2 linked regions of the Homo sapiens genome follow. The protein of the gene in region 1 purifies or fractionates together with the protein of each later gene. This does not show direct contact. Each region holds a gene or a part of one and is shown on either strand. Other genes may lie near its edges.

Region 1 (7,231 bases):
CCACCCAAATTCAAACTATATTACAAGGCTACAGTAATCAAAACGACATGGTACTGGTAGAAGAACAGAGAACAGAGAACCCAGAAACGAGACCACACACCCACAACCATCTGATCTTTGACAAACCTGACAAAAACAAGCAATGAAGAAAGGATTCCCTATTTAATAAATGGTGCTGGGAGACCTGGCTAGCCATATGCAGAAAATTGAAACTGGATCCCTTCTTTACACCATATATAAAAATCAGCTCAAGATGGATTAAAGACTTAAATGTAAAGCCCAAAACTATAAAAACACTACAAGAAAATCTAGGCAATACCATTCAGGACATGGGCATGGGCAAAGATTTCATGATGAAAACCCGAAAAGCAATTGTAACAAAAGCAAAAATTGACAAATGGGATCTAATTAAACTAAAGAGCTTCTGCACAGCAAAAGAAACTATCATCAAAATGAAGAGACAACCCACAGAATGCGAGAAAATTTTTGCAATCTATCCATCTGACAAAGGTCTAATATCCAGCATCTGCAAGGAACTTAAAACAAATTTACAAGAAAAAAATAAGCCGGGCACAGTAGCTCACTTCTGTAATCCCAACACTTTGGGAGGCCGAGGTGGGTGGATCACCTGAGGTCAGGAATTTGAGAATAGCCTGGCCAACATAGCCAAACCCCCTCTCTACTAAAATTACAAAAATTAGCCAGGTGTGGTGGCATGCACCTATAGTTCCAGCTACTCAGGAGGCTGAGGCAAGAGAATCACTTGAACCCAGGAGGCGGAGGTTGCAATGGGCTGAGATTGTGCCACTGCACTCCAGCCTGGGCAACAGAGCGAGACTCCATCTCAATAAAAGAAAAAAATAACCCCATTAAAAAGTGGGCAAAGAACATGAACAGACAGTTTTCAAAAGACATACATGCGGCCAACAAACATGAAAAAAAGCTCGACATCACTGATCATTAGAGAAATACAAATCAAAACCACAATGAGATACCGACTCACGCCAGTCTGAATGGCTATTATTAAAAAGTAAAAAAACAACAGATGCTGGCAAGGTTGTGGAGAAAAAAGAACGCTTTCACACTGTTGGGATGTAAATTAGTTCAAACATTGTGGAAGACAGTGTGGTGAGTCCTCAAAGACCTAGAAGCACAAATACCATTCAGCCCAGCAATCCCATTACTGGATGTATACCCAAAGGAATATAAATCATTCTATCATGAAAATACATGCACTCTTACGTTCATCACAGCACTCACTATTCATGATAGCAAAGACATGGAATCAACCTAAATTCCCATCAATGATAGACTGGATAAAGAAAATGTGGTACGTATACACCAGGGAATACTATGCAGCCATAAAAAGGAACGAGATCTTGTCCTTTGCAGGGACATGGATGGAACTGGAAGCCATTACCCTCAGCAAACTAATGCAGGAACACAAAACCAAATACCACATATTCTCACTTGTAAGTGGGAGCTGAATGATGAGAACAGATGGACACATGGTGGAGGGACAAGACACACTAGGGCCTGTCAGATGGTGGGGAGTGGGGGAAGGAGAACATCTGGAAGAATGGCTGATGGATGCTGGGCTTAATATCTAGGTGATGGGATGATCTGTGCAGCAAACCACCATGGCACGTCATTACCTATGTAACAAACCTGTGCATCCTACACATGTACCCCTGAACTTAAATGTTGGAAATTTAAAAATAAATAAAGTTCTTAGAAAAGAAATCCACATCACAGATAGAACAAAACCATCAGAATACAGCATGCTACAGCAGGCAGATAACAATCATCTCCTACAGAGCAGAGGAAGGAGCCTTTCTGTAGTCAGCCTGGTGCGTGTAAAATAAGCCCCTAGTAGCTAGATGCTGAGCTGCCTAAGGCCCCACTCATCACATCTTAGGTAACAAAGCCCTGTACCATGGTAGCTATTAATAATGGTAAAAATCACCTGGAGGCCTTGTTAACACACAGATTGCTGGGCCCCACCCCCAGAGTTTCTGAGCCAGAAGGCCCAGGATGGGGCCTAAGACTGCATTTCCAACAAGTTCCCAGGCGCCACTGATCCAAGAACCACTGGACAAGAGCAAAGAAACAGCTTCCTGTGCCAGGTGAGGGGATGAAGAGAGGGTCACCCCATGACTGCAGTCACGTCGGGCAATCGCGGGGCTGACAGACAAGGGCCTTAGCTCTCTTGTTCTTTCAGAAAGTGAGTCCCTGTATGCTGACCAATCCTTCCGAACCAAAAATTGAGACACATGTTCACACAATGGACATTTATTAATTGTTTATTTTTACTGATTAGAGATAGCATCTCGCTATGTTGTGTCTCAAAGTCCTGCCCTCCAGCGATCCTCCCACCAGAGCTTCTCCAGTAGCCACTGTGCCTGGCAACAAGGGGCATTTAGAATACATGGTTGACTGTATTTTGACCACAATTACCCCGCCCCTCTCTTGCCATGCTTACCTCCAGTCAGTGGTTCCCTACTGGGGGCAGTTTTGTCTCCTAGAGAGCAGTTTCGATTGTCACAGTGAAAGGGGATGCCACTGGCGTCTAGTGGGCAGAGGTCAGGGATGCTGCTGAACATCCCAAAATACACAGGGCAGCCCCACAACAAGGACTCATATGGCCCAAAATGTCAATAGCACCAAGGCTGAGAAACCCTGCTCTCGATGGAGTAGACTTCCCCATCCTGACTTTAGCCAACGTGAGCAGATGTGAGCCTTATACAGGCAAAAGCACTAAGGGCACTTGTGTGGTTTGGCCCTGTTCCCACAGAGGTATTGCCTCTGCCATGAAAACAGCAAGCACCAGAGTGCCTCTCCCTTCCCTGGGCTTGAATGAGAGGACTCGGGGCCTGGTCCAGCCCTGCCAAGCCCAGCAGAGCCACAGCTATCCGGTAGCCCTCATAAATACAGATTACCCACTGCTGAATAATACAATATGAGAGATGGTTTGGGGTACTTGGCTGGCTTATGGGGAACAACAAGAGGGTATATGTGAATGCAGCCTGAACTCTCAATAGCCCTATCATGCTGCCATGGCTCAGACTTAGGCTTCCCCCCTCAGAGCTGGGACTATTCATCGCTGGGAACCGATGCACACAGATGTCCACCTGGCAGCACATGAGATGGGGCTGAGATTAGGAGGCTCCATGGTTTTAAGTGGTGAGCTCTACAGATGGGCTTGGGGAAGACTCAGTTCTGCCCCACCAGCAGGTGCATAAGGAGAAACCACCTTGGTGCTTCTGTTCTCCCCGAGCCTAGGGCAACTTCTTGCCCTTCCCAAGCCTTCCTCCCTTCCTTTGGGAGGAGGCCAAAGTTCCAACTTTGTTCACCATATATTTTACCTGTATTAATTTTTTTAATATTGCATTTAAATGTCATTTTTTTTCATGATTATTGAGTTTTCCAGTGCCCCCTTAAATTCTGCACTCAAGGCCGGGCGCAGTGGCTCATGCCTGTAATCCCCAGCACTTTGGAAGACCAAGGCGGGCAGATCACTTGAGGTCAGGAGTTCGAGACCAGCCTGGCCAACATGGTGAAACCCCATCTCTACTAACAATACAGAAACTAGCCGGGCATTGTGGGACGTGCCTGTAGTCCCAGCTACTTGGGAGGCTGAGGCAGGAGAATGGCTTGAACCCGGGAGGCGGAGGTTGCAGTGAGACGAGATCACGCCACTGCACTCCAAACCTAGGCGACAGAGGTCTCAAAAAAAAAAAAAAAATTCTGCCCTCAAAGCAGTGCCTCCCTCACCTCACCCTGATCCTGGCCCTTCCTAGAGGGATCTCAGAAGGGCCTGGGTGGGCATCTTCTCTAAGCATCATGCCTCAAGCATCCCAAACGGATTCCCTCATTTTCTGGCTGATGAAGCCATCTGGCTGCCTGCCCATGACAAGAAGGAAATGGCAGCATCTCTACATACCTGGGCAGTTTGCAAAGGCACTGATTGGGCTGAGAACCAGCTCAATGAGGTCGGGCTCTCTTATGCAATGGGCTTTTCACATTTCACACTTAAAGACCTGGAATCCACTCAATCCATAGAAAAATCACCAGGAAAGAAGAGAGGCTGCAAAAGGGTAGAATGAGAAAAAGCCAGGAGGGACATGAAATCTCCATTAGGTAGGAGAATCCACATCTTTTTCTAGAATGAAGAGACCTGACCTGGATAAAACTGGGCACAGCTTGGGGGAGAAGGCTGCCTGCCCAACAGAAGACTCACTGTGGCCTGTTCAGCCCTACAGTGCCACCTGTTGGCTTCAAGGTTTTTTCTCTCACATATCCAGCCAACACTGCGAATCCAGAGAAATCTCTCTTCCTTTCTTCTCAACTAGCTTATAGTGAAAATACTAGCTTCCTTTGAACTCCAGGCAACTACAAAAATTTCCAAATTTCTCTTCTTACAGTGAACCCTGTATCCCAAATATTTCTGGAAAAAAAGTGAAAATTAGCTAAATAAACCACAGCTGTTTTTCTGTCCACTTCACTGCTCAACAACCTTGCATGACTTCACACTACCTTTAGAATCAAGCTCATGATTCTTAACCTTGCACCTGGTGGTCCCCCATATCTAACTCGAGATCACCCAAGGATTCACCTGGAACCCTGGGTAACCAGCCAAAACGAGCCTCGGTACTTGCTGAACTAGTCTCCAGTTTTCTCATCTCAGAGCCTCTGGCCACCACTGTGTTTTCTCAGCCCATGACTGCTCCTTCCAAACCTCCAATCATTGAAAGTCTCCTTCAATGGACAGATGAATGGATAAATAAAATGTAATATACACAAACAACGGAATAATACTCTGCCTTAAAATGGAAAGAATTTCTGACACATGCTACATGGATGAACCCCGAGGATATTAAGCTAAGTGAACTAAGCCAGGACCAAAAGGACAACTACTGCATGACACCACTTATACAAGGTATTTAGAGTAGTCAAATTCATAGAGACAAGCAGGAGGGTGGTTACCAGGAGCTGGAAGGAGAGAGGAATGGTGAAATACTCTTTAATGGGAATAGTTTCAGTTTTGCAAAATAAAAGAGTTCTATGGATGGATGGTGGTGATAGTAGCACAATCACATAAATGTACTTAATACCACTAAATTGTACACTTAAAATTTGTTAAGATGGTAAATTTTATATTAAGTATATTTCACCATTTTTCTTAATATAACGGCTTCTTCTGCCTGCAAGTTTTGGAATTTGATCCAGAACAAGATGAAGGTGAGGAACCAAGGGCCCCTTTCTCCTAGTCTAGAAGCTGAATTTTACCCAAAATGAGACAGCTTGTGTTGGGTCTTCAAGGTTTATGACCAAATACTGCTGTAGCCAAGCTTCCTTCAGGGAGGGGCCTTACTCACTGTGCACCTGGCAGTTTACAGACGTGGCTTTACTTAACCCTGTAAACAATCCCATGAGGTCCTGGCTATTAGCTTCAATGGATCTGTGCAGAAACTAGAGCTTAGAAAGGCAAGCAACTTGCTGGAGGTGTCACAGCAGGTCAGAGGCAGATCCTGGATGCCAGTGCTCTTTCTGCCCTGCAGCACTGCTTTCTGAACCAGAGGCGTTTCTGAATGACAGGACCTCTCATCAACTGCTTTTACTACCTTAACCTTTCACCATTTTATCTCAAATAAAAACAGGCATTTGGGGCCGGGTGCAGTGGCTCACATCTGTAATCCCAGCGCTTTGGGAGGTCCAGGTGGGCAGATCACCTGAGGTCACAAGTTCAAGACCACCCTGGCCAACATGGAGAAACCCCATCTCTATTAAAAATACAAAAATTATCTGGGCATGGTGGTACACATCTGTAATCTCAGATACTTGGGAGGCTGAGGCAGGAGAATCGCTGCAACCTGAGAAGCGGAGGTAGCAGTGAGCCGAGATCATGCCACTGCACTCCAGCCTGGGCAACAGAGCAAGACCCTGTCTCAAACAAAAACAAAAACAAAAACAAACAGGCATTTGGGTTCCTTCCCCGAAGAGCCTTCTGCATGTAAAGAATGTTTAGAATGGAATTTATCCTGTTACTGTCAGTAAAGATTTAATGCGGGTACACAGTAAGAGATACAGGAGAAACTACAAGATTTGCTATCTCCCTCTTCCCTTCCAGCAGAATCTTGATTCTCTTTGGGGCAAGAACCATCCAGACTAAGGGCTAAAATTTTTTTTAAAAAGAATCCTAATTCCCAGACTCTCGTTTAACTAGGTGTAGCCAGGTGACTAAATCATGGTCAATAAAATGGAAGAGTAGTGTGGGACTTCTGGGAAGGAGAAAGCTGGCTCATCTGAAATTGGAACTCCCCGGTTAGCATTATCTCCCTTCTTCCTCCCTGTCACCTGGGGGTAAGCATGATGGTTGGAACACCAGCTGCTAACCAGGACCACGAAGTAACCTTGGGAATAGAAGCCACAAATTTGGGTGCTGGAGTGCCGGATAGGAGTCCAGATCTTGAAGAGCATGGAGCTTCCAAATCCATGCTCAGGTCCTTCTCTGTGAGCTGAGATGAGCTCTGCAGCATGTCTAGTTGGGCACGGATGAACTTGACCTTGCCTCTCATTGAAGGGTTTCACATCCACGTAAGAGTGAAATAAGTTGTGGTTTCTCACATGTTTTTACAAAGCTATCATCCTCAAGGGTTGGCCCCCAAGTTGTTTGTCAGGCAAAGCTAATACTGGAACTTGATACGAAGTATGGCTCATTACTTCCCAGCTGCTCAGCTACTCCAAGCAAAAGAGGAAAGCAGTGGTAGAACAGTATCATTTTAGCATAAAAGAAGCACATGCAAACACATGGCCCATGGTTTCCTAATTTCCTATGGTTGTAAACTGCCACTCTCTCTAAAGAAATCACACAAATGGGGAGGAAGCCCAGGTGTCGGGTGTGTTCAGAAGAGAACTTTCTTATCAGAAAGGGCTCCCCAGGAAGCTGAATCTTCGGCTGCGGACTTTGAGGAGGGAGGTTCATCTTCCAGAGGGCACAAGCCTCTCAGCCAACATGCCAATCCCTTTGCAGCCTGGCTGAGGCAGGTCTCACACTCACCATCACAAGGTGTCCCCTCACTGGAGCATCCACTGTCTCTTTGCAGATGGGTCCATGAGAGAGATAGAGGGCATAGAAAACAAGACCCCACTGAAGTGCCCAAGCCTCAAGAAAGGAAGAGAGAGTGTGGAGGACTGGGCATCACAGGGACCAGGAAAGGGTACAAAACCC
Region 2 (7,274 bases), on another chromosome or scaffold:
CTTCTTTTTAATGATTACATAGATTTTTTTTCTTTTGTTACATAGTTTACTATTGGGAAGGTTAAAAGAACAATCATAAATGACAAAAAGTTAAGAGACAGTGGATACTTACACTTTCTGGATAATTACTCACAAAATAAAACAGTATTAAGCTTTATGCACTATAAAGAGATACCAAAATTCTACAAGAAGTCCTTGGTAGTCATAGTGAGATCTGCATTTTCTATTTGGGAGGAAAATTTATAATTAGACTCCTCATAAATTTGCTTTGCTATAAAGAAATAATTTCTCAATGAAAAAGGTTACAAAGTTTTAAGTTAGAAAAATTGTGCTACATTTTTACATAAATTAGCCAATGAGTTATTTAGTAGTTCAACAATATAAATATGGAAACAAGCAAAATTTTAAAGTAAATATGTAACAAAGAAATTAAACCACAAACCCTTTCAGGTGGTACAGCCTAAAATGTTTACCCTTTCTCAAGCAGAAATTGGACTATCTCTGGGTGCCCATTCCTTGCCGCATACATTAAAGCAGTCCAGCCATTTTCAGAAGTTTCATTGAGAAGAGATGGAGAATGACTGAGTATTCCTGTTAACTTGGCAATATCTCCTTCAGCAGCTGAACAGTGAAACTGAGTAACTATTTCTTGCTTCAGACTTCTTTTTACAGAAGACATTTCTTCCTTAAAAGAAGGAAAATCAGGGGAAAAAGCTTATTTGCAACTGCTTTTTTATCAATGAACAATATTGATAAATAGCAATAGAATAATAGCAATGGTTTCCAAGGCAACATACTATTCAACAGGCAATCCTTAAACAGCATACATTTCAATTTCAAAATGTTATCAGTTTAGAATTATAAAATGCAACGCAATTTATATGCCCATGGGAGTTACACAAAATAATGAATAAAGAGCTCTGACAGTACAGACGAGGGGGCCATATCCTTGGGAGGGGGAACCAGGTAACATATTACATAAGGAGGAGGTATTTAGGGTAGACCAGAGGGGACTTCACGATGGGTGGGGACATGAGGGGGAGAGCATTAAAACAGATGGAAGTAAAGGCAGAGACTTTATAAGTTTCACAGGAAAACAGTTTATTGTTTGACCTTGCACAATTAATTCTGTAATCCATCTAGGATCTATTTTTGTTCATGGCATGAGGTAGGGGTCAAGATACTTTTTTACCCAATGCATAATCCATATTACTCCGTATTATTCTTGAAATTACCATCTTTGTCCTACTACACTGAGACAAATATTGTCACAAATCAGATGATCATATATTTTTGGTTCTATTATTGGACAGTTCTGTTGGTCACTTTGTTGTCCTTGAATCAGAGCAGCTTTTAAAACTCATTAACTTTATCTGCTTTGTCACCTTTTTGTTTCGGTGGGGTAAACCCTGAAATAATTGTTCCATACCTCTTAAATATTGCCTAATCATGGACTGCAGATGATAGAGCACACACTGAGCTTTTTTTGTCTTTTTTTTTTTTTGGCGGCGGGGGATGGTGAAAATGGTTCATGATTCAACTGTCTGTGAACTTCTCAAAGTATTTTTTTTTAAGGTATAATTCTTCTTTCTATGAAATGCTATTAAGAAAAGATTTGGGATTCTAACAACATTTCTATCATTCTAAGCAATAAGATTTTTAAGCTAAAAAGACAGAAAGGTTATAGCCCATAGTTTTTGATAGCTGCTGTCTCCTGGGTTCTGAAAGGGCGATCTGGCTGATGAATTGCATAGCAGGAATAGTATGAACAAAATTTAGGGAAAACAAGGAGTAAAGATTAATTGTCTCATTTTGGAGCTGTTCACCTTTCCTATTTGTGTCTTTCTGCTACTTATAAATAGGTTAAAACTGCTCACAGTCATGGAAACACTTGGATGAAACCTAACAGTGGAAATCTGTTTAGAAATTAAATTACCAGAAGTAATATCTACATGACAGAATAATTTTTGATTTATTCTAGAATTTACTTCGCTGTTCCTTTCATATTGAAATTTCTACATACGTTAAAAATACTATGCATAACAAAAGCTACAAATTTTCAGGACTTTATTTTGAAGCACTGCTGTACAGCTCCTGTACTGATCTCCCTTCCAAATTGTCTTTCTCTTAAGTTTATTTTCCAAAAACCCATATTATAGTTTTTTCAGCTAGGTTTAGTTTGAATAATATTTCACTGTCTCATGTTCTGGGGTCACCGTCACTCCCTCACATTCTCACAGGCCGCGCCAGGTAACTGCAAAATTGTCCTTCAAAAATACAGCGTCATTCACTACCTCCAGGGCAATGCTTATGCATATGCTATTCTGTGGAGATGGGAAGTGGAAAGTGTACACTTTTCCCTCTAGCTTTCTCAGCAGAAAAGCCATCTAGAAATAGTACCATTATTCATTCCAGAGAAGCACATAAAGTCTAACACCCAATTCTACTGTTTGATTTACTTTTTCAATTCTCATTGACAGGTTATAGAAGGTAAAGATTTGAAGGCAGAATAAAGTGCTGCCCTTGTTTTCCAAGAAGCTCAAGGACTATTCCGAGAAATCATTTAAAAGAATATTAGATGTAAAGGGACATAAATTTTTAACAAACCAACATCCACTTTTACTGACATGTAACCCGGGGCCCATGACTTCCGCATGCTCACACAGACCGAATGGGACAGGACAGGACCTTAAATATCGCTCTGTCACTGAAATCACTGACCATCAATTAACGAATTTCATCCACTCCCTGGGCACTCAAGACCAATTAAGTGCCACCCGTGCACGGTCTCTGAAAATGGTAAAATGCCTTAAGATATTTTACTTTCTTGCCACTACTGTGAGATTCCTTCTTTCGAGGTGAAATCACACCCTAAGTAGCGCTTCCTTTTCCCCATCTCAGCTTGGGCAGGAAACTCTACGACCTCAGTACCGCCGCACCTCCGCCCTGTCGCGGGAGCCCCTGCAAATGCGTCCGTGGCTCCCGCGCCTGCGCCCACCAAACCACTACGAGGCTCCGCCACACAACTCAGCAGGGCCACGCAGGGCAGCGCGGGAACCAAAGAGCCCAGGGAAGTGGTCACCGCCCCCAGAGGAGGCAATGAGACGACTAACTCCCCACTGCTTCTACTAACCCAAAGGTGACCACAGTAGAGGCAACCAGGATGCAGTCCAAAGATTGGGATATCCCACTCGCTTTTCCTGGAGCCGGATGCAGTCTTCCCGACTTCCGGTGGAGATCCGGGGGTGGGGGGGGGGCGGGAGGGGGGCCCCCGCGGTTTTATGGGAGATGTAGTTTGAAGCCCACAGGTTGTGCGCAAGGGAGAAGGGGTGGAGATTGGGGGTGGAAGTGTTTGGGAGCCGGCGCGGGAGAGATCGCGGTCTAAAGGATTGGAGCTGAATGAAGGGCTGAAAATCCTTCTCCTGAGACTGTGATGTGTAGATAGAACGTGGTGCAGGCGATCGGAAAACTGTAGGCCTAAGGAAACGATTTTAAATTTTCCAGCGTCTCCCACCCAACTCCTAGCCCTCTCTCCAATACAGTCCAATGCAATTGAGTGCTCAAAGCATTCTTTCCTGTTAAATAATCCTGGACTATTGACTAGACCAAGTCACTCTTAAACGAGATATTCGGCCTCTGTAACACCTTAATCATTCACCCCATGGGAAAACTGGTATCATATACTGACGCCTAACTTATTCAGTAGTCCTTTAAAAAGTATGTATCAAGCGCGCAAAACACCTCCTTGGGTTGTGAGGTGTAAATAGGATAATGTATCCAAAGCTCTTAGGATGTTGTGAAGTGCAGAGTGGGCACCCACAACAAAATTATTGTCGTTATTTTTTATTTCAGTTCCTGTGCTTTTATGCTCCAAAACCTACAGAAGTTATGAGTCCGAGATTACAAAACTAGGTGTTGGCGGTCTTCTAACTTCCAGACCAGGGCTTTTTCCTTTACTAAACTCTCTCCTTGGTAATCAGCAACAGCTACAGGGGTCTCTTACAATTGATCACTGTTTCCCACCCAGATTTTACCCTTGGAAGCTCCTTCTCACTGTGAAGCTGTATGCACCAGTTGACATTGATCATGAGGGCTTCTAACGCCCTGTGCTGCTGTTTTTTTTTTTTTTTTCTTTTTTTTAGATGGGTTCTCACTCTGTCACCCAGGCTGGAGTGCAGTAGTGCGATCTTGGCTCACTGCAACCTCCGCCTCCCGGGGTTTCAAGTGATTCTCCTGCCTCAGTCTCCCGAGTAGCTGGGATTACAGGTGTGCGCCACCAGGCCCAGCTAATTTTTGTATTTTTAGTAGAGACAGGTTTTTGCCATGTTGGCCAGGCTGGTCTGGAACTCCTGACCTCAGGTGATCCATCCGCCTTGGCCTCCCAAAGTGCTGGGATTACAGGCGCGAGCCACTGCACCCGGCCGCCCTATGCTTCTTTATGTGACTAGTTGTTTTCAGCCTTTAATGATTTCAGTGACCAGACAGGTGGTCAGAAAGGATTAGTTACTTCACTTGGAGTACCCAATCTTTGCATTCAAACATATGTTAGATTAGTATAGTGAACCCTCGTGTATTAATGATCCAGAGTCAACAACTATTAATATATAGTTCTCCCAGTTGTTAGGATTGTTTTGAAGTAAATTCCAGACCCCATATTGTTTTGATGACAAATATTTAAGAGTAAACTTTTTGGAAATATGTATTATATCTAAAATATAAGGGCTTTGAAAAACAACACAACTTCAATATCCCTAGTATTACAAATTTAACAATAATTCTGTAATAACATAAAAGAAACATTCAATATCAAATTTACTCACTTGCCTCAGAAGTTTTATATGTTTTTCAGTTGATTCATCTGAACAAAGTCTCCACATCACATTTGATTTTTAAAAATCTATGGATTCCTTCCTCTTCCCCTTTTTTTCTGGCAGTTTATTTACTAAAGAGTAATGATCATTTGTTCTGTAGAATTTTCCACATTCTGAATTTTGCAGATTTTATTCCTGTGCTGTCCTTTCCCCCTGTATTTCTTGCAAACTGGTAGTTAACTTTATAGAATTACTCAGATTAAAGTTTGATTTTTTTTCACAAAAGACTTTATAGGTGTTACAGTTTACTTTGTATTGAATTACTTCAAGAGGCTTACAACTTCTGGTTGTCTCTCTTTTTTTAATGTTATACTTGATCATTGGGTTCAGATGTTGTCAACCTGATAACATGTATGATAAATAATAATATAAATATTATAAAAATATGGTAAATGTTTATGATAAATATATGACATTGATATATAATTATGATAAATATAATTATATTATTTAAATATTAAATTTATGATAAATATATTATAAATTTTTCCATCAACTTTTCAGCTAATAGTTTTAGCAGCCATTCATGATTATTGCCTGCATCCATCATTTTGTTATGAGTTGCAAATAGTGATATTCTAATTTGATATTCACTCTACATTTACTAACAAATTATTTTATAATAAAGAACTTCATCTAATTAAATATCTATACAGCTTATATGGAAAGATAGGATAAATGTGCGATTTTCACCATTATTTCCTAATCTTCAGAATAATTAGTTAGTTCCCTAATATCCTTCAGGTAAGTATACAAACGTGCCTTGTTTTATTGCACTTTGCTTTACTGTACTTCACAGATAGTACATTTTTTACAAATTGAAGGTTTATGACAACCTTGTGGCAAGCAAGTATATAGGTGCCACTTTTCCAACAACGTGTTCACTTTGTATGTCTATCACATTTTGTAATTCTTGCAATATTTCACACTTTTTCATTATTATATCTGTTATGGTGATCTGTGATCAGTAATCTTTGATGTTACTATTGTAATTGTTTTGGATTGCCACAAACTGCACCCATATAAGTTGGCAAACATAATCAATACACGTTGTGTGTGTTCTCACTGCTCCATCCACTGGCTATTCTTATCTCTCTCCCTCTCCTCAGGCCTCCCTATTCCCTGAGATACAGCAATATTGAAATTAGGCCAATTAATAACCCTACAGTGGCCCCTAAGTGTTCAAGTGAAAGGAAGACGCACACATCTCTCACACATTTTAAATCAGAAGCTGGAAATTATTAAGCTTAGTAAGAAAGGCATGTCAAAAGACAAGACAGGCCAAAAGCAAAGCCCCTTGCACCAAAGAGTTAGCCAAGTTATAAAGGCAAAGGAAAAGTTCTTGAAGGAAATTAAAAGTACTACTCCAGTGAACACATGAATGGTAAGAAAGTGAAACAGCTTTATTGCTGATATGGAGAAGGTTTTAGTGGTCTGGGTGGAAGATTAAACCAGGCATAATATTTCCTTAAGCCAAAGCTTTATCCAGAGCAAAGTCCTAACTCTCTTCAGTTGTATGAAGACCGAGAGAAGTGAGGAAACTGCAGAAGAAAAGTCGGCATCTAGCAGAGGTTGGTTCATGAGGTTTAAGGAAAAAAGCCTCCTTCATGACATAAAAGTGCAAGTTGAAGGAGCAAGTGGCGATGGAGACGCTGCAGCAAGTTACCCAGAAGATCTTGCTAAGAGAATTGATGAAGGCAGCTAAACTAAACAGCAGACTTTGAATGTAGAAAAAAACAGCCACCTATTGGAAGAAGATGCCGCCCATGACATCCATATCAAGAGGTGACAAATCAATGCCTGGCTTCAAAACCTCAAAAGACAGGCAGACTCACTTATTAGGGACTAATGCAACTGGTGACTTGAAGTTGAAGCCAATACTCACAATTTTGAAAATCCTAGGGCCCTTAAGAATTATGGTAAGTCTACCCTGCCTGTGCTCTCTAAATGGAGCAACAAAGCCTGAATGACAGCACATCTGTTTAGAGAGTGGTTTACTGAATAAGCCTACCGTGGCCACCTACTGCTCAGAAGAAAAGTTTCCTTTCAGGGCCAGGCGCGGTGGCTCACACCTGTAATCCCAGCACTTTGGGAGCCCGAGGCGGACGGATCATGAGGTCAAGAGATGAAGACCATCTTGGCTAACACAGTGAAACCCTGTCGCTACTAAAAAAAAAATAAAAAAAGTAGCCGGGCATGGTAGCGGGCACCTGAAGTTGCAGCTACTCAGGAGGCTGAGGCAGGAGAATGAGGCTGAGGCAGGAGAATGGCGCAAACCCAGGAGGCAGAAGTTGCAGTGAGCCAAGAGATCGCACCACTGCACTCCAGCCTGGGTGACAGAGCGAGACTCTGTCTCAGAAAAAAAAAAAAAAAAAAAAAAAAAAAAAGATTCCTTTCAAAATA

The links. Proteins that work in one complex are often made in the same cells at the same time.
Region 2: the proteins of PDLIM1 (region 1) and NUDT12 purify together in Homo sapiens (affinity purification with mass spectrometry; 3 studies listed by BioGRID and IntAct, with this or other methods). This does not show direct contact.

What each region holds. Positions count from the first base shown.
Region 1 is NC_000010.11:95,238,950-95,246,180, forward strand, and holds part of PDLIM1 (PDZ and LIM domain protein 1), read right to left. Parts: intron 1-7,231. UniProt on the Homo sapiens protein: Cytoskeletal protein that may act as an adapter that brings other proteins (like kinases) to the cytoskeleton. Involved in assembly, disassembly and directioning of stress fibers in fibroblasts.
Region 2 is NC_000005.10:103,559,570-103,566,843, forward strand, and holds the start of NUDT12 (NAD-capped RNA hydrolase NUDT12), read right to left. Parts: upstream 3,221-7,274; 5' UTR 3,134-3,220; intron 686-3,133; 5' UTR 680-685; coding exon 474-679; intron 1-473. UniProt on the Homo sapiens protein: mRNA decapping enzyme that specifically removes the nicotinamide adenine dinucleotide (NAD) cap from a subset of mRNAs by hydrolyzing the diphosphate linkage to produce nicotinamide mononucleotide (NMN) and 5' monophosphate mRNA.